Regions from separate parts of the Homo sapiens genome. Here all the other regions are reported to be linked to region 3. The links are microRNA targets in miRTarBase. Many come from high-throughput screens and were not tested one by one. Region 3 holds a microRNA gene; each other region holds the end of a gene's coding sequence.

What was found. The annotated mature microRNA hsa-miR-181b-5p reads AACAUUCAUUGCUGUCGGUGGGU and lies in region 3 at 1,800-1,822, shown strand. An mRNA with a match to its seed (bases 2 to 7 or 8) in the 3' UTR can be bound and repressed. Matches are read on the target gene's strand: a 7mer-m8 pairs with bases 2 to 8, a 7mer-A1 pairs with bases 2 to 7 and ends in A, and an 8mer does both.
Region 1: the mRNA of TMEM94 is a reported target of hsa-miR-181b-5p. Seed matches in the 3' UTR shown: 7mer-m8 at 822-828, 8mer at 984-991 and 8mer at 1,450-1,457.
Region 2: miRTarBase lists ZXDC as a target of hsa-miR-181b-5p. The part of its 3' UTR that is shown has no 7-base or 8-base seed match.
Region 4: miRTarBase lists DDHD1 as a target of hsa-miR-181b-5p. The part of its 3' UTR that is shown has no 7-base or 8-base seed match.

The regions. Positions count from the first base shown.
Region 1 is chr17:75,498,595-75,505,712 of GRCh38, forward strand. It overlaps TMEM94 (transmembrane protein 94), which reads left to right. Exons shown (of 32, transcript NM_014738.6): 30 at 35-128; 31 at 318-488; 32 at 668-1,858. The coding sequence ends at 740. CASKIN2 (CASK interacting protein 2) reads right to left here. Exons shown (of 20, transcript NM_020753.5): 10 at 6,963-7,057; 11 at 6,218-6,479; 12 at 5,978-6,099; 13 at 5,826-5,886; 14 at 5,621-5,712; 15 at 5,258-5,368; 16 at 5,065-5,166; 17 at 4,795-4,933; 18 at 3,185-4,660; 19 at 2,874-3,096; 20 at 1,667-2,576. The coding sequence ends at 2,486. MIR6785 (microRNA 6785) reads left to right here; the gene lies at 1-34. Among named protein-coding and RNA genes, the nearest start is that of MIR6785, 3.6 kb to the left of the region's middle. RefSeq lists an enhancer at 5,966-6,105.
Region 2 is chr3:126,431,817-126,438,934 of GRCh38, reverse strand. ZXDC (ZXD family zinc finger C) reads left to right here. Exons shown (of 10, transcript NM_025112.5): 10 at 474-1,334. The coding sequence ends at 560. It overlaps CFAP100 (cilia and flagella associated protein 100), which reads right to left. Exons shown (of 17, transcript NM_182628.3): 14 at 5,731-5,866; 15 at 4,554-4,759; 16 at 3,283-3,376; 17 at 2,379-2,644. The coding sequence ends at 2,531. It overlaps LOC124906280, which reads left to right and starts at 4,753. Exons shown (of 1, transcript XM_047449418.1): 1 at 4,753-6,139. The coding sequence starts at 5,192. The coding sequence ends at 5,737.
Region 3 is chr1:198,853,629-198,860,746 of GRCh38, reverse strand. MIR181B1 (microRNA 181b-1) reads left to right here and starts at 1,765; the gene lies at 1,765-1,874. The region is part of intron 2 of MIR181A1HG (MIR181A1 host gene); the gene reads left to right. It overlaps MIR181A1 (microRNA 181a-1), which reads left to right and starts at 1,594; the gene lies at 1,594-1,703.
Region 4 is chr14:53,040,822-53,047,923 of GRCh38, forward strand. It overlaps DDHD1 (DDHD domain containing 1), which reads right to left. Exons shown (of 13, transcript NM_001160148.2): 13 at 1-6,128. The coding sequence ends at 5,947. Among named protein-coding and RNA genes, the nearest start is that of FERMT2, 93 kb to the left of the region's middle.

The DNA of each region.
Region 1 (7,118 bases), not on the chromosome of region 3:
AAGTCTGACCCCCACATCGCCCCACCTTCCCCAGTCTTCATTTCCATCACCCATGTGCATCGCACCAAGCCCCTGTGGAGAAAGAGCCCCTTGACCAACCTCTGGTGGGCCGTGACAGTGCCTGTGGTGTGAGTATTGCTAGGATGGAGGGCGGAGTGTGGGCTGGGGAGGAGAGGGCCTTCTGCAGGGCTAGGATCGGAGGGCGGGACCGGGGCCAGTGGTTTAACTGTACCCTGCCTGAGCTAACTGTTGTACTGGGAAGAGCAGGGAAGGAAGCAAGCAGTGTCGGGTTCACACGGGGCCGCCACCTCCTGCAGGCTGCTGGGTCAGGTGGTCCAGACGGCTGTGGACCTGCAGCTGTGGACACACAGGGACAGCCACGTCCACTTTGGCCTGGAGGACGTGCCCCTGCTGACATGGCTCCTGGGCTGCCTGTCCCTGGTCCTTGTGGTGGTGACCAATGAGATCGTGAAGCTACATGAGATTCGGTGAGCTGTCAGCAGGGCGCCTCCCTCTGGGCTCAGGCATGTTCCCTAAACCTGTTACTCCCTTGGCGACACTCCCCCACCTTTCCGCTGCCCATCCCTCCCTCCTCCTCTGGTGTCCTGCCCCGGCCCCTGGTCTAAGGATCTTTGCCAACCTGTACTTTAATCTCCTGCCCCACCAGGGTCCGAGTCCGCTACCAGAAGCGACAGAAGCTGCAGTTTGAAACTAAGCTGGGCATGAACTCTCCCTTCTGAGCCACTGGCTGTGGTGGCTGTAGTTGCCCCCGTCCCTGGGGCTAAAGCCAGACCCATTTCTGAACAGGGGAGTTTGTATCATGAATGTTTCCAGGTTTGCTCCTGCACCCGTGGCACTGGAAACCCAGCTCCCCGTGTCAGACCCCGCTGTCTTCCTGAGCCCTGGGGCTCACTGTGGAGGAGCTGACGGCCTGGGCCCTTGGCCAGTCCTGGCTCTTCCCTGGGCCTCACCAGGGACACTCTTGAATGTATGGCCTCAGGCGCTCCCTAGAGGGGCCCTAAACCCCCTCACCTGTGAGCTACCCCCTTTAGGGATCCCTTGCCCCCTTGGAGATCCCTTGCCCCCCAGTGCCTCTGCTCGTGGGTCCCTGGACACGGCCTTGAAGCCAACCTTCTTTGGAGGAGCAACAGCAGCAGCCTTGGCCGACGCGTCCAACTCCCAAGGCTGCCGTGGAGGGCAGGGGGGTGGTGCTTGCCTGGATGTGGCCCCGAGTGCCTCCCCTCCCTCCCTCTGTGGGGGAGTCTCCCGCCTGAACCTGAAGATGGAGCAGGGCCCCCGCTTCGCCCTGGAGCCTCTTCCTGTGCCTGGCTCAAGCTGGCTGCCTGTCAGTCTTGGGGAATCTGGCCCAGGTCTCCTCAGCCTCTGCCCCAGTTCTGGGAGAAGTTTCTACTGGTGTATATTTTTTACTGGAAATGAGCCTTTTAGGAATGAATGTAGACTGGTTTGTATTAAAATGTGTCAATTGCTAAGAAATACCTGTGGCTGGTCTGTAAGGCCACTCCAGGGTCTGCCCACCCCCGGCGGTGGCTGGCAAAGGGAGGCCTAAACCTTCCTCCATCTACGCGGGTGGGTCCCTCAGGTCTGGCTCAGGCGAGACCCCTAGGGTCAGGGGTCCCCATGTCACAGAGGCAAACACACAGCCCAGTCACGTGGAATGGTGTTTTCATTGGTGTTAGTTGGGGGAAGAGGTTAATGGTTACAGAGCCAGGGCCTGGGCCAATGGGGTCAGGCTCTCCCTGCCCTCAGGTGGGCAGTCGGGGCTCCTGCTGTGGTCCGAAGCCCCTCCCCCATTGTGTCCTCTCAGGCAGTTGATAGAATAAATTCCATTTAAAATATATGCATTTCTCTCTGCTTAGAAAATAACATTTACAATTGAAAAGTTAGGACTTGTGGGATCTGTTAACCCCACTGCCTCCCACCCCTGCTAGCCCTGCCTCAGTGAGGGAAGGCGGGGGCAGGAGCTGCCTGGGCACCACCGCTGTGTATTTACATGTCCTCTGTACACCTACGGAGAGGGGGCCCGGCCAGACACACGCCTCCTCCAGCCTCTCAGGGCCTGGGCAGGATGGTGGGTGGCAAGAGGCATTCCCTTGGCACAACTTGGGACATGGGCTGGGGGGTACAGAGAAAGCACCCCCAAAGCCCCACCCCTACTTCCTCCCTGAGGAGAGAGCTCTTACCAGGGTCCCTGTCCAGGAGCAGGGCTGTCCTGCTCAATCGATCAAACCCTGGGAGGGGCTTTGCTGAGATGCAGCGGAGGTCCCTCGCTAGTCAGGTTCTAAGGTGGGCTGCCCCACAAGAGCTGTGGTGCCCACAGCCGCGGGCTGAGTGGGAAGGGGCCCTGCTAGGAGGGGCACTTCAGCCTGACCAGCCCTTGGCCCGTCCCTAGGGTGGCAGGGGCCTCTTCTGTGCTGGGGCAAAGGCAGTGGACTTCGGCAGGTCACAGTGGGCACTGCTGGAGGGCTCAGTCCAGCATGGCGTCCAGCTGGTCAGCCAGGGCGTCGAACATGGTGCTGATGTCATCCAGAATGTGCTTGGTGGAGGCGCTGGGGGTGCTGCAGCAAGGGGAAGGATGCGGTCAGATCAGCCAGTGGCCTGCACCCCACTGGCCCTGGGGCAGGGAGCTGTCATAGCTCCCAGAGGCTCAGGGAGGCAAGGGACCGGCCAGGCTCCTGTGCCTCTTAAATGGTAGCCACCAGGATTCCCTGATCTAGGTGATTTCAACACCTGGCCTCTTATCCCGTTAGTGCCTGCAATGTCCCCCTCCAACATCCCCATGATCCCTGGGCAGAGGATGCAGGGAGCACTGTTTCTCTGCAGCCTTCTCTCCCTCCCCATCCGGCCCCCCTCACCCCTCTTGCTCCTTGGTGCCAATGCTCTTCTCTGCGGCTCTCAGTGCAGCTGCCAGGGACGAGCTGGTCTGCTCCAGTCTCTGCTGGGCCTGGCCTGGGCCCACAGTCCCAGTGCTCTCAGGCCGTGGAGGAGGCACTGGGCGGGGGCCGAGCCGGGGCGCTAGCTTAGGGCCAGAAAATGCCAGCTGGGTGCAGGCCACCGACACAGGCTTGGGGGCTGTTCCTGCAGAGACAAAAAGGTTGGCTTGGGACTTGGCTGGGTCAGACACAACCCTGCCAGCAGTGACTCTCCCACAGGCCTCCCCTCTTACCTGCTCCGGGCACCTTGAGGAGGGCAGCAGGGGCGGCCGGGGGTTCTGTCTCCCCATTCCACCGACTAGCTGCTGAGCTTTCCAGACCTGGCCCTGGGCAGGGCGGCACTGGAGGCTGCATGGCGGGGCTGGGAGCAAGGGGGGTTGGAACTCCTTGGGCTGGAAGGCTGCTGGGCTCGGGCTGGGGAAGGCTAGAAGCTGGAGGAGACTCGCCAGGAGTTGGGGAAGGCAGTGGGGCAGCGGGGCCAGGCGTGGCACTGGCCACTCCGAAGGCCAGCAGTGCGGTCTGCAGTGGCTCTCTCTCCCGGCACTTGGGCCTCCGCTTAACAGTGTCTGATTCCGTGAGGTTGAAATCGAGGCCGGGGGGCACGGGTGTCTCTCGGGGCGGGGGGCCAGCGGGCTTCGGGCGCTGTTTGATGGTCAGGTTCCCTTCCTCTGCAAACGGCAGCCCTTCCCCAGAGCTGCCCCGAGATGGGGGCGTCCCCTCAGGGCCTGGCTCCTCCTCCTCCGTGTCTGACGCGGGCCCAGCCGGGGCAGGTGGGCCAGGGGGCTCTGAGGGGCCAGCAGGTTCACTCAGTGTTCGCCTTCGGGGCCCTGTGGCCCCTTCCTTGGGCCCTGGGCTCTCATCTAGTGGAGGTGGCTCCGGGCTGGGGCCAGAGACGGAGCTGAGGCGCTTGGGGGGCGGGGGCGGGGGGCCTTTGCGCCGGGCCCGCAGGGCAAAGGACTGGCTGCGAGGAGTCCCCCGAGCTGGGGTTGGGGTCACACTAGGACTGGTCCGGACAAGGGCACTGCGTCCTGGCCGCCGGGTAAGGGTAGCATAACTGCCTAGGGTGCTGCCCACTGGCCCTTCGGCCTCCCCCTCAGCATCCCCCTCTGTGGGGCCAGGGCGGCTTAGGCTGTGGGACCGGCGCTTAGGTCGAGGCGGGTCTGGGGGAGTGGCAGGGGGCCCGGCCAAGTAGGAGAAGGCCCAGGGTGCGCCAGGAGGTGGCCCTGGGGCCGGGCTAGAGGGTGAGCCCTGGGGGTACATAAAAACATAGGGTGGGGGTCCTTGGCCAGGAAGTGAAGAACAAAGCTTAGGGGGCCGCTCTGTGCCCTCTGGGAGGTTCCTCTCCTGGGGGGGGCTGGGATCTCCACCGCTGGGCTGTGGGGCAGGCTGTTCCTGTGAGTGGCCAGACCCCCGTGAGCGTGCCCCGATGCTCTCCTGGCTGGGAGAGCGGGCAGGTGGGAGGGGGAGTGGTTCAGGGCCACCCCCTGCCATGGCCGCCTGTAGCTCTGGGCTTAGTTCGCTGCCCTGGAAGGTGAGGAGCCGTGGGCCAGCTGTAGCTGGGCCTTCTCCGTTCTCCAGTCCCTCGATGGCCATCAGCTCCGGACCCTTGGCCAGCCGGCGCCCGCCTTCGCTGAGGGCCTCCCCCTGCAGCAGGCCCCGCCGAAGCTCCGCCAGCCGCTTCACCCCCAGCATGAGCTTCTTCTGATGCCCTGAGATGGGGGACGGAAGTGGCAAGGTTAGCTGGGGCTGGGGTTGTCCTGGTCACCGCTGGGCCCCATACTGTCTTCTCTTGGAGACCCCGGAGGCAGGTGGGGGCCCAGCCAGGCCTCAGGACAGTCCTTACCGAGCTTGTTGACCCCAATCTCCTGCAGCTCCTCCCAGGTGAGGTCGGCCACCAGCCCCATGGAGTCGTAGCCGCTGCTCACCAGCTGCTTGTGGTACTGTGGCAGCCCCAGTGCACACAGCCACTCCAGCAGGTCCGTCTGGAAGAGCACCGTCCTCAGAACAACTCCCAGCCAGCCTCCGCCCCCAGCCAGAGGAGAAAAGGCACCGCAAAGCCACAGCTGAGGGTGACAGCACGTGCCCCACTCCCCAGCCACCCTTGATGGCTCACTGGGATGTAGCTGGGCAGCCACTCGGCGATGCTGAGCTGAGCGATCTCTGAGGCGATCTTCTTCCTGTGCCCAGGCTTGGTCACCCCGATGGCCGTCAGGTCCTGCCACACAAAGTCTGGCCATCAGGCCCCTCCCCCGCCTGCTGGGCCCTCCCCCGCCCGCTGGGTGCTGCTTCCCGGCTGCAGCACCCACCTCAGGTGTCATGCGGCTGATGGTAGGCACATCATAGCCGGCCTGCAGAAAGTGGGCAGTGTAGCCCTCCAGCTGGAACTCGCTTAGCCAGTTATGAATGGCCTGCGCGTCCTGCGGGGTGGGGGAAGGGGGCAGAATTAGCAGGAGCTGGACCAAGGCCCTAGCCCCCACCAGGGGCTCAGGACCTGCCTGAGCGGGGCTTCAGTCCATACAGAGGCTCTTGCCTCTACCCTGCCCTACCCACCCCGAGGCCCACAGTGCACCCCGTGGAGGTCACACCTTCCCCCCCGAGGCCCACGGTGCACCCCGTGGAGGTCACACCTTCCCCCCCGAGGCCCACGGTGCACCCCGTGGAGGTCACACCTTCCCCTCCAGCAGCTGTTCTGGCCGCACGTCCTGGGTGAAGATCTGCTCCCCAGAGCGGCAGTTGGCCAGAGGGCGGTGGCTCAGGTTGTCTTCAAGGAGAGAGAAAAATGGAATGGAAAGGTGGCAGGAGGAAGGGGTGCCCACCCTCGGCCTCCTTACTTGCACCTCTCCTAGCCAACCCAGGTCCCCTGACCCTTCCTACCTGCCAGGGACGGCGGGTGGAGTCCTGGCAGCACCTGGTCCTCTCCAGCAGAGGGCAGTGGCTGGAGGAGACAGGGCAGGAGCCAACTCAGCATTTGGGGAACTGGCAGTGGGGAGTGAGCCCTGACCTGGTCCGTGACCCCATCATCCTACCTGGGCGTTCTCAATCAGGAGGCCAGGGCCATGGCCATTAGTGCCCTCAGAGCTCTGCCCGCTGCCGGCACTGCGGATGCTGCCCACGCTGCCCTCACTGCCCACACTATTCCTGTCACCTGCTGTGGGGGGCAGAAGCCAAGGGGTCAGAGTCCCAAGTGTCGCTCTGACAGCTGTCTGGCAGCTTGCCCAGGCCACACGCCCACACAGTGCCCAGCACTGCCCCCTGGGAGGATGTACCTGGGCTGTCTGGGCTGAGGCCCACCCGAGGAAGCTGGCTGTAGGTAAGAGGGTGCGGGGGTTCTTCGGCAGGAGGCTGCGGTGTCCGGGAGAAGCCTGGGCGCAGGGGGGTGGGTGCGGAGGGGAGGCGGGCTGCAGGGATGCCCACCCGCTTGCTGACCACCTCGACAATGCCCGGGGGGAAGTAGCCTATGCGGTCTGTGCCCCTCTGGCTCTCGTGGATGTGGCCCTTCCAGCGGCCGTCGGGATGCTGTTCTAGCACCTGCGGCCAGGGGTGGGGGGCGGGGACGGTCACTCCCAGCACCAGGCAAGTGGCAAACGGTTGTCCCTGCAGCTGCGGTCCGGCAACCCTGGTCCAGCTCTTTCCCTACCCCTAAGGAGCTGGCCTCTGATGCCCACACTGGCCCAAGTTCCGCCCCTGCTGCCAGCAGCCAGCTCAATCTCCCCTGTGCCTCCAGGGCGAGCCCCAGTGGCAGCCCGTGGTCAAATCACAGCTCCACTACTTGCTAGCTGTGTGACCTTGGGCAAGTCACTTGAATTTCTCTTGATTTTATTTTGTTTAATTCTCAATTTTGTCATCTGTAAAGAAGAAATGCTAACAGCACTGCCTTCCCTGGCTTTAAGAAGAATTAAATGAGGGTGCATATAGAGACCTCAGAGCAGAACGTGGTAACATAGCAGGTGCCCAAATAAGTAACAGCAATCATTTGTATTTGCAAAGGAATGCCTGCTTGGGGTCCCTCACCGTGATGACATCCCCTGCCCGGACATTGAGAGCAGTGGGATCGTGGAGGTTCCAGAAATCCTTGAGCGCTCGGACCTTCAGGATCCCTGAGGCCTCTAAGAAAACGGGGTGGGGGACAGGTGTCATCTAAGGGTCCTTAGGGCATCTTCCCACCCC
Region 2 (7,118 bases), not on the chromosome of region 3:
GACATAATCACCGTAGCCCGGAGTCAAATGGTGCAACAGCAGGAACACTTCTTGTAGCAGGAGGAGACAGGCTAGATGGGGCCTCCATAGCCCTGGGCCACATCCTGGTCAGCTGTGAGGGCACAGGCGGACGGACACCTAATACCTGGGAGAGTGCTCACCGCGTGAGAAGTGCGGAGAAAGGGTTGCAGAAGTAAAGATGATTTTGTTTCTGTAAAAAGGCATATGGGTATATGAACATGTGAGGGTATACGTCAATGTGCAGACAGAACAATCTTGAAAAATTTACAGTACAGTATTGAGTTCATTTTTCATCAAAGAACATGTGTTTAGAATAAGGGGAGCCTGTAGTTTTGAGTAAGAGAAGTCAGGTATCTCACCACGGGCCTGGTCAGTGTCCTGCTGTGTGGAGCCACAGGATCCCTCTGCCTCCCCTCCCTCCTCCCTCTTCATGACAATGCTTGGTTTTGCAGGAGGTGCTCCCCTCATCTGGAGGCCCTGCTGGACCGGAGGCCACCCAGTTCCCAGGAAGCACTATCAACCTGCAGGATCTGCAGTGACGGCAGCCTCGGCCTGGGCAGGCCCAAGGCCACGGTCTAGGACACACCTTCCCTGAGACTCATGACATGAGCCTGGGGAGACCTCATTTGGTTTCCGTTCAGAAGACCAGCGTAGCCCTTTTGAGACTTTTGGGTACATTTATCAAAAATGTTTTCCTTTTGTTTTACCAGGAATGAGTTCGGGCTATACTCTTTGAAACTGCCTTTGTGAGCAAAGTGCTTTGGCAAGGCAAGGGTCTCCCTCAGCAGGGCTAGGTGCACTACAGCCTCTTTCCCCGTGTCCCGTTGGATCTGAGCTGTGTAGCACTTGTTGCATTACAAAGAAAAAGACTTCTGCAGGAAATAGGGTAGAGAACAGGCTGTCTAGTCAGATGCAGCTTGATCTGTGGCAAAACCAAGTGTGGTCTTTCAGCTTCAGTGTGTTAGCATCCCAGCACCTGGGATGGGGTTTGTGGGCAAGTTGATTTTGCCACACTGTAGGGCCCAGGTGGTCCCATTGCCACCGTGAAGCCAAATTCTAGCCCAAGTCTGGTAGAGCAGTCGGGCAGCTAGTTTTCGGGGGAGGATGATGTGGTGGGACAGAGGACCTCAGTGGCCTATTACGGAGCCCTCTTCCCAGACTAAATTCATAGCCGAGAGCTCGGGGGGATGGTAGAGTTAAAATTTAAAATAATTTTCTAAATTCTGTATTTGGATATTAGTGTTTAAGTGGTAATTTGGCAACAGTTTATAAAGTGATGTTCTGAATACCATAAATTATGTGTAGGACTGTGATGGCGCGTGTATGTTTTATTATTGAGGTTGATGTGCACATAATACGTCAGTGTATATTTTTACCGAGTGAGGTCTGTCTTGTAAAAGGAGACAAGGTGATCACCTTGCCCATGTTTATTTGTAAGTCTGTCAACTTAGCAATGACACAGGGTCACTCCTAAATGACTTTTTTTTTTTTTTTTGCCTTGTGCCTTTTGAAGTATGTGTTCATTCAGAGGCTGTTTTGATTCTCAGACTGAATCATTCAAACTCTGCCCTGTGTTTGTTTCTTGAATTTGGGGGTGACATCAAGTTTGAGTGAGTCCTCCCTCTGTCTTGTCTCACTCTGAGGTGCTGTCCCCAGGTGCTGTTCCACGTGGAAGAATCCACACCTCGTCGACAAATGGGTCTTCTCCACAGACCGGCGCTCTGTCACCAACTAAAGGCGAGGGGAGAACTTGCCCACCTGGCAGGCTCTTTAGCCCCAAGGTGGCCCGGAGTCCTCCTCCCTCCATGGGAGGCTTTTGGCCACCATGGCGGGTGGAGCCGCACCCACCCCATCTCCATGGGGAGGAGAGTCTTCCCCCAGGAATGCCCTCTCGGCCTCTATTTTTCTCCCATGTGCCTCCCTGGGAACGTCACCGTGAAGTGACTGGGACTGGCACCCAGTGTTCTGGGCACCAAGGTTCCCTGCCGGTGATGGGCCTAACTCCTAGTGCAAATGAATGAAAGTTTTCTTATAGTCATGCACCGAAGGTTTTTCACCTTGGCTTAATTCAAGTAGCTACATATATGGCATTCAGCCCATTGTTTCTCCTTTAGTTGGTAGTGCTGGCCCTGCCATATACCTAGCTGCCTGCTTGTATTTCTTTGGTCTTTGCACAGAGGCTGATCTCACACTACACTCAGCGTGGAATTAGCTTTTGTCTCGCAGAGCAGCTGTTTTAGATGGGAACCAAGGTGTCATGCTCTTGCCCTCAAGCATCTGCTTAGGGTTAAATGATGAACCGGCGGGGTGCTGAGATTTGGCAATGGTGGCTGCATCCTTAAGCAGGCCTTCAAGACTCCAGAGAGACATGAATTTATTCAGGTGAGGAAGGGAGCACACAGGAGACAGAGAGGACTCAGTTGGGCCACTCGAGACCCAGCCCAGTCTCTGCTTCCTCTGCCAACATCTTTGCTAAGCCTTCAGCCAGAACAGCTATGGTCTGCGAAGATTAAGTAAAGAAAAATAGCAGCTCCTCCTCCTCCTTGTCCATCAGTGTGTGCTCAGACTGTTGTTTGATCCTGTGGGCTGGGGGTCGTGAGCGGCATACCAGTGTCCTGCCTCTCTGCAGGGGAAACAAGCCCAGTGAGCCTTGCTGCCTAGTGAGCCGTATGCCCATATACCCCTGCCCCTGGTGCAGGGAGAGGCCCAGCAGCTCCAGTCACCTCCAGGCCACTCTGGTCAGCCCTGCAGGCTGAGGGCTGGAGTTAACTCTGAAATAACTGGGGGTGTGAGTCTGCCTGGCATTTATCAAGCCTGGTCTCTGGAGCACCACCTATTAGATGTGGGGGCAGAGGGACCTGCTTCCTGTTGCCAGGGTCAGAAGGCAGGAAGGGTGGGGGCCTTGGGACACAGCAGTAGGGGGACCCCAGTGACGGGCAGTGAGCAGGGCTTGGGGTCTGGCCGGAGTGTGGGTAGGGTGGTGGGACCCTGCTCCTGAGCAGAGTGTACCTGGCTGGGGTGGGTGGGCATGGCTGAACCAGGCTCAGCCTGGCATGGGCCATGGGCTGGCAGCCTGGGGAAGAGCCCCCTGCAGGAAGCAGGTCCTGGGAGAGGCCTTGCTCCGAAGGCAGCCTGTCTCCCTCAGAGCCTCATTGAATGCCTTCAGAGTGGTAGCATCAGGGGCTTGGGCTGCAGGACCTCAGCTGCCATGCTGTCTTGGGACCCCCTCCAGCAGAGACCCCCCAAGGCGACCCTGCCTACCTTCTTCTTGATCTCAGCCTGGGCGCGCGCCCGGGCCCGCTGCAGATGCTCCTCCTGTAGGATCTTTTGCATCTGGAGCTTCTCTTCTCGAAGTCTGGGTGGCAAGAAATGACATTGAAAACTGGGGGGACCTGGAAGGTGTTGTGTAATCTCCACACGGAGTCCCCAGGCCAGGCCGTGTCCTCCCTCAAGAAAACTCCCAGCTCCTCTTCACCTCTTTTGCCAGGTCAAGTTCTCAATACCTATCCACAGCCAAAGCACCGCTGCTTTTGGCCAAGGTGGCCTAGGCCCAGAGGAGGACAACCAGGGCCCTGCTGCTCCGAGGCCCTGGCTCTGGCCTCCTGCAAGGGCTGAATCTAAGGTTCATCCAGCAGACCCCTCCCAGAGGCACATTTCTCTGAATCTACACCCATGGCCTGATCTGTGCACCTGTGGCCTCCCTTGCCACCATGAAGGCCAGCATCCCCCTGGGGCGAGAGTCCTGTCTCCTTCCTATATATACTCTCAGTCATCAAAGCCTGGTCTAGTGCCCACTCTGAGCAGGGTACCAGGGACCCAGAGGAGAAGCCCCTGTGCTTGGGGGGACGGATGGATGTTTGCAGATTGCGCTGTCTCAGAGCCCTGCACGGGGTGGATGAACCGGGCTGCCCACAGGCCAGGGAAGCCACAACCCCCATCTACCTTGGGTTCAGGCTGGTGTCCCGACAGATAGCAAGCTGCTGCCCATCTGCCCCCCTCCACTCCCCTCTGAGCTGAAACTCCCAAGGCTCTCTGAGCCTCTGCACTTTGTCTTCCGCTCCAGCAACACTGCTGTAGCCATGCCTTCTCTCCTGGGTGCTGGCAGCTGCCCTTGCCCTCAGCCTCCAGCCCCTCCAGTCCAGCCCCAGAGGGAAGAATCTAACCACACCCTACCTGGCCGTGTTTGCCCCACTGCTTAAAGCCCTCCACTGCTGTTCCATGTATTTGAGGCTGACCGTGCTAGCCACACTCTAACTAAGCTCCAGCTCTTCTATCTTCTAGACCCTGTCCCTCCCTGAGCCTCCTGGCCACATCGAGTCACTGTCGTTTGCTCTAGGAAGCTTTCCCTAACCACCCCCCACTTGACTGTGATGCCCCTCTAGATCCCCCCAAGACATGGGCTTTTGTCTCTCATAGCACAGAGCAGGAGGGGCCTGTCTCCTGGGAGTGCTTTGAGGGTGGGGCCTGTATGTGCCCTCTGCCCTCAGGGCCAGCCAGGACACAGCAGCTGGCAGGGAGAGCCTAGAGCTCACCTGATGCGCCGCTCCTTCTCCTTTGCCCTCTCGGCCTGCTCGATCTTGACCTGGGGCACGTGCTCCAGGTTCTCTAGCAGCTCATCCAGCTGGTGCTCAATGATGGTCAGCATCTGCACGGTGCCCAGGTTGGCCTCCTGCTGGGTGCCGGTGCAGTGCCGGTACACATCCAGCACCTTGCAGTTCAGGCTCTCTAGCAGCTTATCCTGTGGAGGAGGTGGCTTCCAGCAGGGTGCTGGCAGGCGGAAACCCACCCCCATGCCAGTGCCTTCAGCGGTGGCCTGCTGACCTCCCAGGGTGGGGGCCACCGCTTGGCACACAGTGGGAGCTCTGAGAACATGGGCTAAAACAGAACTTGGGGAACTGGCTTTTCTTGGCCAGAGCAGCCTATCCCCCGGGCCCCCTGGAGTCAGCCAGATCCCTGGTTCCAGCCCCTCTCCCAGCTGCCTCTGGTGAGCCAACGGGGCCCAGTCCCCTCCTCCAGGGAACCCTGCACCCTGGGCACCCCACAGGGCTATGTCTTCTCTGAGACTGTTCTGACACTTAGAAAACAGATAACAGCCCCTCCATGTGGGCTATATGAGGAGAGAGGAGCAGCAGGCAGGCAGCTCAGCCCAGCCTGGGCACAGCCAGTGCCCATGGATTCTGGCTGTATCGGGAGCGCTGTCTTGCTCATGGCTGCATCCCACACCCTTGGCCCTGTGCCTGGCACACAGCAGGCACTTGACAGTAGGAAGCCATCCCATGCCCGGGGTGGCCCCAGGCTGTCAGGTTGGGAGCGGGCTGAGCCTTTGTCTGGGTCCTGGCTTCTGCTGCTCAGAACACCACTGGCTTTCTCTTCTCTCCCAATTCTCTCACCCTCTCAGCCTGGCTTGAGGACACGCCTCTTCCCCCCCTTCAGGATCACCTTGCCAGACACAATATATGTGTTTAAGAAGCAGACACATTTGTTGAATAAAAGAATGAAGCAATGGATGAGGCGTGGGGGCAACCAAGCTGGCTGGCACAGGCATCAATACATGTGGTGGCTCCTGGAGGGAGGCAGGGCAAGGGCAGCTGCAGGGCACTCACCCGGGCCTTGTCCTCCATCTTCCCAAGGGCTGTCAGGGCTCCTCCAGTGGGTGCCCAAGGGTCCCTCCTTACCCTGGGCCTCTGGCCACCTTGATCCCCAGCCTACCTGCTGATCGCCCTTGTACTCGCCGAAGTGGAAGACTCGGGCTTTGAGCTCCAGCTCAGCTGCTGTGTCCTCCTCCTTGGTGATGGACATCATCATTGTGGTGACCCACTGCTTCAGCTGGTTGACCTCCCTGTCCCTGGAAGAGGGGAAAACCGGCAGGGCATCAGTCACTCAGCACAGCCCTGGGCACATCGCTTCTCTGAGCCTGTCTGTACAGTGCTTTGCCCCTACCAGCTGTCCTGAGGGCTGAAGGATCATGGGTGCCAAGTCTCTGCATGCCCAGGGGGTCAGAAATGCTGGTAGAATGTAGGGGAAAATGTAAAATATTTAACAATCAACATTAAAGAAAATAAACAGCTTCATTGAGGCATAATTCACAGACAATAAAATTAGCATAACCATCATAAAATATACAAGTCAGTAATTTTTTATATATTCAAGGAGTTTACACAACCATGACCATAATCTAATTTTAGAACATTTTCATCACCCTGTGCCCATTAACAGTCACTCCTCATTGTCCCCTCTATCCTTTGGTCTTAAGCCACCATGAATCTACTTTGTGTCTACCCTGAACACTTCATAAAAATGGAGTCACACAACATGTTTTCTTTTGTGACTCGCTGCTTTCACCCAGCATATTTTCAAGGTCCCTCCATGTTGCAGCATGTGTCAGCACTTCATTTCTTTTTATAGCTGAGTAATCTTCCATTGCATACGTAGGCCACACTTTGTTGATCCATTCATCCATTGATGGGCATTTGGGTTGTTTCCACCTTTTGGCTCTTGGGAATATTGCTGCTATGAACATTCATGTGCAGGTTTTTGTGAGGACATGTTTTCAATTCTCACGAATATATATCTAGGAGCAGAATTTCAACATTCACCTTTCTTTTTTCCTTTTTTTTTTTTTTTTTTTTTTGAGACGGAGTCTTGCTCAGTCGCCCAGGCTGGGTGGAGTGCAGTGTCACAATCTCGGCTCACTGCAAGCTCCGCCTCCCGGGTTCACACCATTCTCCTGCCTCAGCCTCCTGAGTAGCTGGAACTACAGGCACCCGCCACCACGCCCGGCTAATTTTTGTATTTTCAGTAGAGACGGGGTTTCACTGTGTTAGCCAGGATGGTCTCGATCTCCTGACCTTGTGATCCTCCTGCCTCAGCCTCCCAAAATGCTGGGATTACAGGTGTGAGCCACTGCGCCCGGCCTCAACATTCACCTTTCAAGTGAAATAAGAAACAGATGCACAAGGGACATGCTGCTCAGAGTTGGTCCTCAGACATCCTGGGCATCACCTGCAAGTGTGTCAGAAATGCAGAGTCTTAGGCCTTGACCCATGCCTATTGAATCAGAAACTTCATTTTAAGATCCCTGGGGGATTCAAGTGCAC
Region 3 (7,118 bases):
TTTTAATTATTTGTAACTGACCTAGAGCTTTGCTTACTGGTAGGCCAAATGCATTTTGTGTTAAGGGAAAATACAGAGCATGGAGTCTTTTATCACAACATCCCTATTATACAAACGTTAGCAGATGTAGCAAGAGATGAATAGGCATGATTGAAAACAGTTGTATATTGACCTGACACTAATACCACAATAGGCAGGCAACAGAACAGGAGTGATATGCTTTCAGTCGTAATTGATAATGCAAACAAATGAATCCTCAGTCTCATGATAATATTCTTTCCAGCAGCAACACAGAAATGCCTACTGATAAAGCATTCTTCTAGGGTTTTATTCTGTGGGAGAAATTTGCTTCTTTCAAAAGAATTAAACAATGCAAAATTCAGATACATCACTGTTTCATATTCTGTGCCTATTTGTCACTTTAAAATTTACTTCCAGTTGATCTCTAGTCCCTGTTTCTCTCAAAAAAAATCTGTTGAAGTTTTCATGTAAATAGTTTGTCTAAAAGGTTAAACAATTATTGGCTTTAAAATAATTCTAAGTGACTGAAATGTAAGAATGTGTAAAAATTTGGGATACATATTTCACTAACATTTCGAGAGTAATTGCCTTGACTTGAATAGACCATTATCACCTTCAAAGTAGCATTCCAAATTATTGTGGGTTGTCCCTCCTACAGATAATTACTCTATAACCATATTAGATGCAACTTAAATGTGTGAAATAATGACTTTCTATTCTGGTTTAGATACATCCAAGGTGACTTTTGTTTTAATTGATGGTAGAAAATTATTGAAAATGGCTCTAAAAATAAATTCAGTAGAGTTCATAATAATTTTAAAATAAGCATTAATGATAAAACAGTCTTAGAAAATAAGACTATGAAAAGAATCCCTCACCCATCTACCCATAAAGAGATGTTAGATGTTAGATGTTATTTAAAATAATAGGAAATGAACGGTTTTGTAGCATACATAGATTGTATTTACCTTTCACTGTATTCATGAACTCTTTGTGCCATAAACTAAGAAAAATGTATTGAGCTGGTTTCTTCACTTATAATTTGTTCAGCATTTTCTAAATAAGATTGTTCTTAGGAAGTTATACTAATTTTAAAACCTTATTTTAGAATAAAATATAGTAAATATATAATGTAAATATAAATGATATCATCAATGCCAATTTGAGGAAATCTAAGGTAATTCTGTTTAATTTCTGTATAAGCTATATACATAATGCTTGCTTACTATAAGCGTAACAATATTTAAATTATAAGATATTGTTTGGATTTTATACCACAAAGTACTTTGAATAACAAATTGTCCCTGTCTTTAACAGTGAGATAATTCCATCTCTGGAACTAGCCCAATATCGGCCATGTTTTTGCTTAATGAAACCGATCCTTTTCTCTCATACAATGTGATGTGGAGGTTTGCCAAACTCTTTGTTGGAAGAATCATGCTTCTTATTTGTCTTCTTTTGTAGTCTTTTGAAATGGCATAAAAATGCATAAAATATATGACTAAAGGTACTGTTGTTTCTGTCTCCCATCCCCTTCAGATACTTACAGATACTGTAAAGTGAGTAGAATTCTGAGTTTTGAGGTTGCTTCAGTGAACATTCAACGCTGTCGGTGAGTTTGGAATTAAAATCAAAACCATCGACCGTTGATTGTACCCTATGGCTAACCATCATCTACTCCATGGTGCTCAGAATTCGCTGAAGACAGGAAACCAAAGGTGGACACACCAGGACTTTCTCTTCCCTGTGCAGAGATTATTTTTTAAAAGGTCACAATCAACATTCATTGCTGTCGGTGGGTTGAACTGTGTGGACAAGCTCACTGAACAATGAATGCAACTGTGGCCCCGCTTTTTGCTGTCACAATCAACAGATATTCCATCTTTGAAAGATGTGTTCAAAATAGTACTATTGTTCTTTAAGTTTTCCAATTCGTCAGCATCTTCTGGTTTATTTATTCAATTTATATCATGTGATGAGATTTCAATGAAAAAGACTCTGGTTTAAACAAGAATAATGCTTCTCTATCTTTTGTATGCTATAAACAGAGCATGTTTTAGAAAAGGCAAAACTATTTTGTCCATCAAACGTACAGTATCATCATCTAGGTTAGCTCACCTTCCTACTGTTGTAGTGTGAGTGAAAAAAAGACATAAAGTAGGACCTCAGCACCCATGCCATTGACAATAACACACTTACAAATATGTGTTCTTTACAACTTTTGTTAGATGTTCTGGTCAAAGTGGGATAGAAACACCAGATAATTTTAGCTTTCTGCTTCTCTGGGTGAGGATTTGCTCATATAATTCTGCCTCTTGCTATGTAACATGCTAAATACGAAGAAAATAATATATACATAACTATATAACTATCAGAACACTCATGACAGTCATATAGTAGATTGATTTTCCCAATTCAATTTCCACTTTAAAACTTTACCCACTTTCTATGTGCATGAACTGCGTGGTTAGACTTACAGTCATGGCCCATTAATTGCCTCATGTTTACTCATCTGACTTTGCAAGTAAAAGCCTATGCATATCATGGTTTTTCTTAAGTGGTTTGCCTCTGCATTTTTATATAGGACATCTGTCATTAAATTTGATCACAGCAGTTTTAAGTTTACCATTTGTAATGATAATAATTATATAGCAAAATAAAATGCTTTCTCAAGTGTCTATGTTTGGAGTACCTGGATGGCTTCAATGTTCATTTTTTTTTAATGGTCAAATAAATTATCCTTTCTTTTCCTTGATCTTTTAAATCCCATTTGCCTTTAACTCCCATTACAGAAACCCATTGCTGGGACCCGGCTCTTGACCTCATCATAACCTTAAAATATTTTACCACATTCGATATCTAATATCCCACTCTGTCTATCACTTCTTACCATTCTAGTTTCTCATTCTCTTATCTCCAAGGCAACTGTCCTTTCAATATCAGTGTTGCTGAAAAATAAAATCACATCATCATATGGACACATTAATACACATACTCAGGGGCCTCCAAGTGCCTCAGTCCCTCAACTCTGACCCAGCATTTCTTCTACTCCACTCCCTCATGTTTAGCCTAAATGTTTACCTCTTTCCTCAACTGCTCCTTTCCACGATTCCACTCTCAACAGATGAACTGACTTCTGTTTTTCATTGAGAAGCTTGAGTCCATGTGATTATTCCCTCCACTTCCTTGTTTATAGCCTATGAATGCGTAGGATTCTGCCCTGAGTTGTCTCACGTGAGCCTCCTGCCTTGCTTGGGACATCTCTTCCCCTGTGATATCCCCCTCCTCTCTCACCATCTGGCTCCATTTCACATGTAACAAGGTTCAGTTTTCTCTCTTCTCAAATAGAAAACAAAAGAAATTTGAGAAAAACTTCTCTATACTTGCTTTATCCTCAAGTTACTTACCCCACTTCTTTTCTTCTTTTTAAAAGCTAAGATTTTAGAAATAGTACATAGTAGCCTGCAGCACTGTCTATATTTGTTTACTTCCCATTTCACCTCAACTATATGTAATTTGGCATCTTCTACCATTTCTCTCTCCCACTTGTGCATAACATCATTCTAATGACACTGCTTTTCCCCAAATCACCAGTGAGCTCCATATTGCCAAATACAAATCAAACTTTTCTGCCAGTTGTCCTACTCGAACTCCCCTTGATGCCTGACACAGCTGACCACTTCTTCCTAAACTCCAGTCCCCATTCACTTTTGTGATCCTACTCTCATTTGGATTTCTCTCTTTATTACAGTGATGTCCTATTTATTTATTTATTTTTAAGAAGCTCTTCATCTGCTTGAACTCCCAATGCCAGTATCCTTCTGAGACCCATTCTTAACTTTATGGCTTTTTTTCTCTTCTCTTGTCTCACAATCTTTGAAGGAATCTCAGGCACGTGAATGATGTTTACATCTGCTCAGATGCTGCAGATACCCAAGTCTTTATCTCCAGCTTACACATCCCAAAGCTACATATCTGTCTTCTGCTCTTCTCACAGACCAAAGCCCATCCATGACTACAGATAACGTATCATCTTTTTCCCAAGGGATAACACTCTTGATCTACTTGGAAACCAAAGCCATAAATCTCAATTCATTTCATGTTCCTGGACCTTGCTTCCTCTCCTTTTCTAAACATACAATCGCACAGTCCTGAAGATGTTCACTTTTTATCTTGCTAATATTTCAATTATTCTGTATACTTCTACTGAACTTTAGTCCAGAAACGCACACCTCTTACTTGGACTATTCCAATGGTCTCCTAACTCCCACCATCAGCCATCCATCTGTTCAATATTTTCTTCACAGTATTTTAAAAAGTGATTTTAAAAATGTAATCATATTGTGAAACCGTTTAATCCACTTGGAATAAAATGTTTAATAGATGGATCGTTCTGGCGGGAAAAGCATTGTGAATATTAGCTAAATGAGAAAAAGATAATATCTGGAACTTCGTACAAGTTCTCAAGCTTAATTTCAGTATATTAATGAATTAAATGTAATTTCTGAAAATTTTCTAAAATAAACGTAGTTGAAAATTTAATATCCTTGAAATGATGAAGAACATTTTCAATTTTAACACAAACGAGGCAAAAAGAAAAGACAAGCATGACTTTGACTACATTGAACTTCAAACTATAACGTGTCAAAAATAACCATATAATGAAAAGGCAGATAGCCAAATGAAAATGAATATGAACAATAAGAAAGAAAAAAGATTAATACACTTAATATATGACATTTTTAATATACAAAAAGGAGTAAGAAAAAATTAACAACTAAAGAGACAAATGAACAGTGGACATGAACAGAGCGGTCACAGATGTAAAGCAAATGAGTGAGACCTACATGATGTAAAATTCTGCTTCACTTATGAAAATTCAAATTAAAACCATGAGATGTAATATTTCTTTAGTAAAGCTAACTGATGAAGAAAATTTAGTGATGGTGACATGAATGTTCTCATGCTATACTGGATTGTCTTTGGTTTCTGCTGAAACTTCTGGGCTTGATTTTTCCATTTCCATTACTTTATTTTTTGAACATGGAAACACACCCTTCCAGCTATGGCAAATTAGATCAGAAGTACACACCTGTGCCAAAGGGACTCAATCCATCCATTTGACTGAAACTTTTATATTTTCATTCTTATGAATTTGAATTAAGATAAACATAAATCCTTCAGGAGTAGAAGGTGTGTACAAAATGTATAATTTCATGAAGCTTTGGAATAGATTAACATTTTTCTTTGTTTATATATAAAAAAAGTAAATAAAAGATGGAAGTTGGTTAGTGAAAAGCAGCTACAAGAAATAGACATGAGATTTTTGCAGTTCCCTGAGAGACGGATGAAAAATCTTTAGTCCAAAAAGCTCCAGGTCCAGAAACCATTTTCCCAGCCATCTTTGCTCTGCTTTTTTTTTTTTTTTTTTTTTGATGGCTGTTTTCAGTGTCTATAATAATTTTAATGGCTTAAAATAAGTCCTATTTTATTTAGCTAAGGATGGTTTCTGTTCATTGCCTTCAGAACTATACAATGCTCATGAGAGTATGATCTGATTTAAATGTTATGGAAATAATTTTATCAATAATTTAACAATGCTTGTAAACTTTTATCCAATAATTGTGTTTTTAGAATTCTCATTTACCTATGTATTTATTTTTAATAGACTAATACTAATTATATATGTTTATGGGATACAATGTGATTTTTTTGTTTTAGTTTTTGTTTTATGTTTTTTGTTTTTTGTTTTGAGACTGAGTTTCGCTCTTGTCTCCCAGGCTGGAGTGCAACGGTGCAATCTCAGCCCACTGCAACTTCCACCTCCCAGATTCAAGTGATTCTTCTGCCTCAGCCTCCCAAGTAGCTGAGATTACAGGCACGTGCCACCACACCTGGCTAATTTTTTGTATTTTTAGTAGAGACAAGGTTTCGCCGCGTTGGCCAGGTTGGTCTTGAACTCCACAATGTGATATTTTGATCTACAAACATATTGTAGAAAAATTACATCAAAGTAATTAACATATCTAACACCTCAAGAATTTATCATTTTTTGATGGTGAGAATGTTAACAATCTGTTCTTTTTGGCAATTTTGAAATATACAACACATTATTATTAACTGTGGTCTCCATGCGATACGATAGGATCACTAAAACTTATTCCTGTAGTCTAAGTAAAGCTTTGTAAACTTTAATAAACATCTCTCCTATCACTATTCCTCTCCCATTCTCCCAACCTCCAGTAACCACATTTTTATTCTGTTTCTATGAAATTAAATTGTTTAGATTCCACATGTGTATAAGATCATAAGTATTTATCTTTCTGTGCCTCCCTTATTTCAGTTAGCATAATGTCCCCCAGTTTCACATAGGTTGTCAGGAATAGCAGAATTTCCTTCCTTTTTAAGGATGAATAATTTTCCATTGTTTATATATTCCACATTTATTTTAATCCATTCGTCTATTGAACACTTAAGTTGCTGCCATATCTTAGTTATTGGGAATAAAGTTGGAGTGAACATGAGATTGTCGATGTCTGTTTGATGTACCAATTTTCAATTCCTTCAGATATATACCCAAAACTGAGATTGCTGGATCATACGGTAATTCTCTTTTTAGTATTTTGAGGAACCTCTCTACTATTTTCCAAAATGGCTATACTAATTATTTACATTCCCCTCAACAGTATACAAGGGCTCTCTTTTTCTCCACATCCTCACCAACACTTCTCATTTGTTTTTTTGACAATGGTCATTCTAACAGGTGTGACGTGATACCTTAATGTAGTTTAAACTTGCATTTACCTTATGATAAGAGGTGTTGAGGCCGGGTGCAATGGCTCACACCTGTAATCCCAGCACTTTGGGAGGCCAAGGCGGGCAGATCATGAAGTCAAGAGATCGTGACCATCCTGGCCAACATGGTGAAACCCTGTCTTTACTAAAAATACAAAAATTAGATGGGCATGGTGGCACATGCCTGTAGTCCCAGTTACTCAGGAGGCTGAGGCAGGAGAATCACTTGAACCCAGGAGGCAGAGGTTGCAGTGAGCTGAGATCACACTACTGCACTCCAGTCTGATGATAGAGTGAGACTC
Region 4 (7,102 bases), not on the chromosome of region 3:
GTTAGAGAGAGTGAACATAAGAAGTCATAGGAGCTGAAAGAAAGGAAACAAGGGTCTCAGGAGAGTTATGGTGCCAGCTGCTTCTGAGAAATGTCCCTATGAGCAAAAATTCTCCATCTTCTTACTGGCAAAGTTGGGATTATGGCAGCCTTAGAACCAGAAAATGGTTATAATTTTTTGTCATGAAGCTCAAAGGGAAACAAAAAGTTTGAGAGATCAAGCAGGGACCGCAGTGGGTGTGGGTACAGTCAAGGGAAGGTATGAGTGACGCTCCTAGATATTCAATGTCTTCCAGGAGAAAGCAGTAAAGGTCAAGTGTTAACATACTTGTTTTTCATCTTACTCCAACAGAAGACCAGATGTAATCTTCCTAAAGAATATTCCCCAACATATCCTGACAACTGTTGGGTGGGGAGGAAGCAAGTTGTACCATGTTACATATAAATGAAAAACCATAAGGTAGCAGACAATACTAAGCATGCACCCGCCCTTATACAAACACAAAGGCAGAGGAAAAGTTCACCCTAACAATCTGCCAATGGACTATTTTTGGGGAATGCACATACATACACACACACACCAAAAAACAAAACAAAACACAATAGTAAAAACTCTTCTCATAGTCTCCAAAAAGGATAGTACTTAAATTTTAAATTTCTGAGTTAACCTATGTTGGAACAGTTTTGGAGGTGACCTATTTGTCATGAATTGATAAAAGGCCCACATAAACACTATGGAAAGGAATGTTAAACATTAGTTAACACTGTGCAACTTGTTTCCTTAAGTTTGCATTTGTCACCAGAATAGAAAACTAACAAAATATTTCCTGGATATCTTATTTTTTTCTTGATTTTCTTTTTGTTGTTTTGTATTTCTTCTTCTTTTTCCTGGGTATTTTGAATCTGAGGCATAAACGGAAGTCTGTCCAGACCTGATAGGGTACTCTTATGAGAGTCTGGAAGAAAGAAGGGACCAACTGCTAACTCAAGCCTACGGCCATGTGTCAGATTAAAGCTTGCTGATGCTTTAATCTGAGCTTAAAGCATCAGATTACAGAGGTGTATGTGTGGAGGGGAGGTTGGGGGACAAAAACAAAGAGAGGCAGTTTCTGCCCTTTAGGAGTAGTTTCCTATCGATTAGGGGAAACAGTCTGGTATAAGACATGGTTGGGAATCAGGGGACTAGGTTCTAATTCTGACTGTCATTCATTGGCCATGTGATTGTATAGGGTGGAATCGGTCACTTACAAAATGAAGGAATCACATGAGGAGGTGAAACTGTAAAACGAAGGAATTAAATGTGATAGCATTTCTCTAGGTAAATGCCAAATTAAAAAATATGGTTAAATAAATTTGGAGGCCCCCACGCAGCACCAGATAGATTCACAGAGCATTTAGTGTAGCAAAGGCTCTCAAAGCCCTGCTGTAAGGGAGATTTTTGAATTTGTCAATTCCTAAACTTAGTTTCTGACATGACACCTGTTAATATTTGCAGAATATTATTGAGAAAAGAATGGTCTCTATGCCCCTTCCAGCTTTAAAATTCCATCATTAATATTTTTTTACTTTACCACTTCCCTCAGTTGTCACTGTATTTAGTTTTTCATGGAGTTTGCTGCCTTTCACTTCACTTTTCATGACCTTTACTGCTATTTAAATGCTGACATGATACTGTAACAGGGTTGGATTAAATGATCTCTAAAAATCTGTACAGACCCGGAAATTTTACAGTTCTTTGAAAACTATCACAAGCATCTACTGAAGACTGAAAGAGAAAGCATATAACCCAGGCTGTCACCAACTTAGCACTAACATTTACTAAATGAGACCTTTGAGATTCTTATGTTTTAAGTTCAGCCAGAGTACCATCAGATTCCTGGCAGAGGCTTGAGGCACAGGAATGACAGCGGAATACAGATAAGGGATAGAAAACTTTAGAATAGCTACAGAGGTCAACTAACCCAAACATAGTTTAGCAAAACTTAGTTTCTTTTTCTAGTATATGATTGCTACGTTCTTTTTTGCTCTGCCTTGATCTTTAATATTTTACGTGTTTTTAGAAGAGCAATTTTAATACATACACTCAAATTAGTTTTCTCGATTGTCCACATGCCTTACTCATTAATTAGCTGAGAAGATAGAAATACCAATCTAATGGATCAAAAAGAAATTTGTCTTCTACTACAGACTTTACAGGAAAATCTTTTGGCTTGATCTGACTCCACTGGAAGGGGCTCATGTACTATCACTGGAATGAACAGAGGCACTAGCTGTGATACGGTACTGACAATTTCTTTTCCTTTTGTCTACTGTCTAGGTGATGCAAAGCTGGAATATGGTGTGTTAAATTTTCTGCAGACTAGGATGCTTCAGCTCCCAATGAGAAAACAGAGAAAAAAGAGACTAAGGATGAATGTTTACATGTCTGAGGCCTTTAGCGTGAGTATTCAGCATGAAGCATGTTCAGTGTGAGTACTTCAAAAGATAACAGATGCCGTTTAACAGAAAGAAGTAAAACGTAAGATTCCTAAGGCTTGCTTCACATACAAAAGAGCAGTTATTAGAACATCCAGTGTGTGTGTGTGTGTGTGTGTGTGTGTGTAAATACATACTTTTTTTTTTTGGATACAGTGTCCAGCTCTGTCACCCAAGGTGGAGTGCAGTGGTGCAATCTTGGCTCACTGAAGCCTTGACCTCCCGGAATCATGCAGTCCTACCGACCTCAGCCTCCTGAGTAGCTGGGACCACAGGCGTCTGCCAACACACCCAGCTAATCTTTGCATTTTTTGTAGAGTCTGGGTTTCACCATGTTGTCCAGGTTGGTTTTCAACTCTTGGGCTCAAGTAATCTTCCCTGCTTGGCCTCCCAAAGTGCTGGGATTACAGGCATGAGCTGCCACACCTGGCCAAAATCCAGTATATTTTTAAATTATGTCCTAAAACACAGAAACACTGGATTATAAACAAGATTACTGTTGAAAAGAAAGTATGAACTAACATAAGGCCTTAGCAAGACTAATTTTAAAGTAAAAATAAAGCAAGATTTAATCTAAGTCTTATTCTAACGGTTAATAATTCTTGGGAAGCTAACTAAAGTTCAGTGATCTAATCAGTACTTGGGAGAATCATCATAGCATGTACACAAAATAGAGAATAAAATTTTAATGGTATCAAAAACAAAACTTTTTTTGGCCGATTTAGTACTTGCTGGAATAAAGTTGCAAAATGTTACTCAGTAACTGACTTAGCTTCTAATCAAGCCAGAATGACACACAGTCTGTATATTAATTAAGTATATACAAATACATCCAATGTTAACATGCACAGACATAGAAACAAGGATACTACAAAACCGAAATCACCATCTCTACTGATGAAAAATGAACTGAAAACAAAACATCCATCCAGTAGTCCAGAATATCTTATTTTTGAAAAGGTTTTGAATATTGCTCTTTCCAAGAATTCAAATAAACTCCAAATGGTTAAATTTGACTGTTTTCTCAACATGAAAAAAAGGAAGCAGACATATTCCTATGGCTATAGGAACATACCTTTTACTCAGTGATATCAAATTAAAAGGTCTGACATAATTTCACTCTTCTCAGGTAAAAAGGGCTCTTCATATTCTAGTGGTTAAGAATAAATCCCTTCAAGTTCTTATGCATTTGAGTGTCATACCACCTACAGCAACATACGCTCAAGTACCTTTAACGATACAGTCATATAGCATGAGTTTAATTTTCCTGAGAACTAAATTAGACCTACAAAATAAACAGGCTATGAAAATGACCTGAGTTCATAGGAATCTCTAAGTTAGAGATAATTTAGCTTTGCTAAGATTTCATCAAAAGCCTTTTATAGCAAGGGTTTCTTAGTGAGTCACATACTTGGTCATGGAGCCTTGGAATTTTTTTTAAACATTAAAAAGAAGTGCTTTATGTTGTTGTGCAAATTCAGCAAAAGGCCAAAACAGCCAACAGTACTGAAGCACTAAGTAAAACCTACAAGTAAGCCACAGATTCTACTATCTTATGAAGAAAGGAGGAGGTGAGAGATACAGCTGACCAACTTTGCTCCCAGTTTGACAATGATTATTGGGAAGCTAAGCAATTCCTTGCAAGTTAAGAAAAGACAGCACCTTAAGTGGAACCTAGTGGAAACCACTCAGAAGTGAGGGTTGTGTGCAACAGGGATGGCTACTGATCCCCTCTAGGTAACTCCTCTTTTGTGTGAGAATCCAAGAACATAGAAATCAAGCAGGGAAACACCGGCTTCATGGTCATTTCTCTGAATTATGAATTGCAACTTCTGTTATTATTGTTTGCAAACTACTAAAAGGTCACATGTGAATCAAGTCATTGAACAGCATATAAAAGAATATGGCCTGGCTTCAACCCAAGCTTTTCTTTTTTGTTTTTTAGAGACAGGGTCTGGCTCTGTCACCCAGGCTGGAGTGCATTGGTGTGATCAGAGCTCACTGCAGCTTTGAACTTCTGGGCTCGGGTGATCCTCCCACCTCAGCCTCTTGAGTAGCTGGGACTACAGGTGTACACCACTACAAGTGGCTAATTTTTGTCAGTTTTTGCAGAGAAGAGGGTCTCACTATGTTGCCCAAGCTGGTCTTGAAATCCTGGGCTCAAGAGATCCTCCCATCTTGGCCTCCCGAAGTGTTGGGATTACAGGCGTGAACCACGGTGACTAGCTCAATCCAAGCTTTTCTGATTTCTGATGTAATCTAATTCATGGCACTTTAAATGTTTTGGTGCCTTGGTGTATTAACATGTAACATGAGAACAAGATTTATTTACTTACCTCAAGAAGCTAGTACATGGGTTATTGAATGCACTCTTAAACTTTGAGCCCCTCAGATGAAAAGCACTGTGGAAACAATTACAGCTGAAGAAAACCCTTCCAATGCCTCAGAATCCTGACTTACTGTGCCTTGTGTCTCAATGGCACATTGAGAAACAATGTGCACTAGTTAGTGGCATCACATCCCTTCATATATGTTGTTTGGCACACAAATGTTTATACATTTAAAATAGCTGTCATACTACCTATTCAAAAGCATTTACTAGTTTTCTAATAAAGCTAATGAAATGTACCCATTATGGAGTACTCCGTGTCAAGTTTAGAGAAACTTTAGCTTTCTCTGAAGTACATGTAACATAATAAAAAGTTTATTTAAAAAATTGAACTAGTGTTGTATGAAGCCATAAGTTTTTAATGAAAAAAAATGTATGCCACAGTGTCTATATATTCATCTGAAGAGTACAAAGATGGAGTTCTGAGAAAAAAGGGTTTATCACTATAGAAAATAAATCTGGTTCTTAAATTATGTTCAAAGCAAACATTAAAACAGTAATGTCTCATACACTGAAATAAAGCAATTAGAGGTAATAAATTATAAATACAGTAGTTCAAATATTGTTTTAAGCATTAGTTTTTCTAAACAAGTTAAATTCAAAACATTTTAAATCTGTTATATTTTTTCAAAGGGATGTACAAATGAAAGCCTTCATAGAAATCTAAAACGATACCACCTTGTGATCTTCATATAGAATATGCTGAACCTTGACCATTTTTGATTTATAACATACTTTGGTTAATACATTATGTTCCATATGCCTTTATATTTGGGAGGAATCAGATTGTGATTTGTAGCCTTTACATGCAGTTTACCCAAACCTTCTTCACATCCAGGTCTTGCTTGATTCTCTGGAGAAGGTTTTGTCAGACTCATAATTAAAATGATGCAAACTGTAAATGACTTCTTCAGAACTGAAAACTTCTTTTTTTTTTAAATAAAGTGCTTTTAAATTCAAATATATGTTGCCCTAAAGAAAACTGAAATATACTTTAACCCTGAAATCTCCGTATCTTGACACACACATTTTAACGGAAAAAAAAAAAATCAGTTTTAGGCCATTCATGTCCTTCAAGAGAGTTCAGATTGGATCTAAATTGGGTTTTGCATCATCATCGTGCTCATGTTTATACATGAAGGTTAAAAGAAAAAGGGCAACATCCAAGGATGACCAATAGGCAGTATGCGACGTGACAGCTGACCAATAGCGGCTCTCCACAAGGCCTTCTCTGAGTTCAAAATCAATCCTGTGATCCAACTCCACTAAAAAGAAAAGAAGTTAAACAAATGAATACAGATTATAATAAAATATGTTCTATATAGACTTACTGGAGTTGAGAGTAAAAATTTAGCTAAATAGAAGTGATTCTGTCACTTTTTTAAGAAGTGACTTTCCATTATCATCTTAAGAGAAAAACACTCAAAAGAGCCTCAGTAGTACAGGATTCTATTTGTAAAGTTCTTTCCTTTGTATGCTAAAGTTAATATAAAATAATAAAGGAAGACAAAAAAAAATCACTTGGCATATCACAGAATATTTTCAGAGTTAAAAAAATTGCTTTCAAAACTTGGCATTACCATTTAATCCTTGTGCCTAATCTATAAAATAAGGAAAACACCCCTCTTGAAGATTTACGGGCCAGGCTTGCATGCAATGATGCCCGTGGGAGTGCAAGAGATCATTCAATCTCCTCCTTAGGGAGGCCCTATATATCCACTAGTTGTGTGAGGGATATGTTAGAAGATAACCATCTGTGTACAATCCTAGAATGTTTTCTTCTCTACTAGGCTGAATGTCTCACAGGCAACCCCCATAAACCCTAGTGTCCATCCAGTCAGCAGGGTCTAACATGTGCCTGGGACATACAAACGCTCATTAAGTGTTTGTTCAACAAAAGAAGAACATGCAGGGTGGCTGGGAAAGTTAAACAGGGAGGAGCAGTGGTGATTCTTGGGAGGAAGGACTTTGCTTATAACAGTGCTGTCCACAAACAATTCAGTGAATTCAATCAAGTATTTTCTAAAGCCCACAGAAAGTCCTTGCGATTACCTGTTAGAGAAAAATCACCTTAACAAATCAAGGCTCTAAAATAATTCCAGTGAGCTCATTTAATAAATTATTAGAGATAAACACTTAAGAATATGACATTTTGATCCTTAGGAACTCCTTTAAACTGTTAATGAGCCGTACAGTGTTCTGAAGGGTCTATGTTACAAACAAAACAAAAATGCTCAAA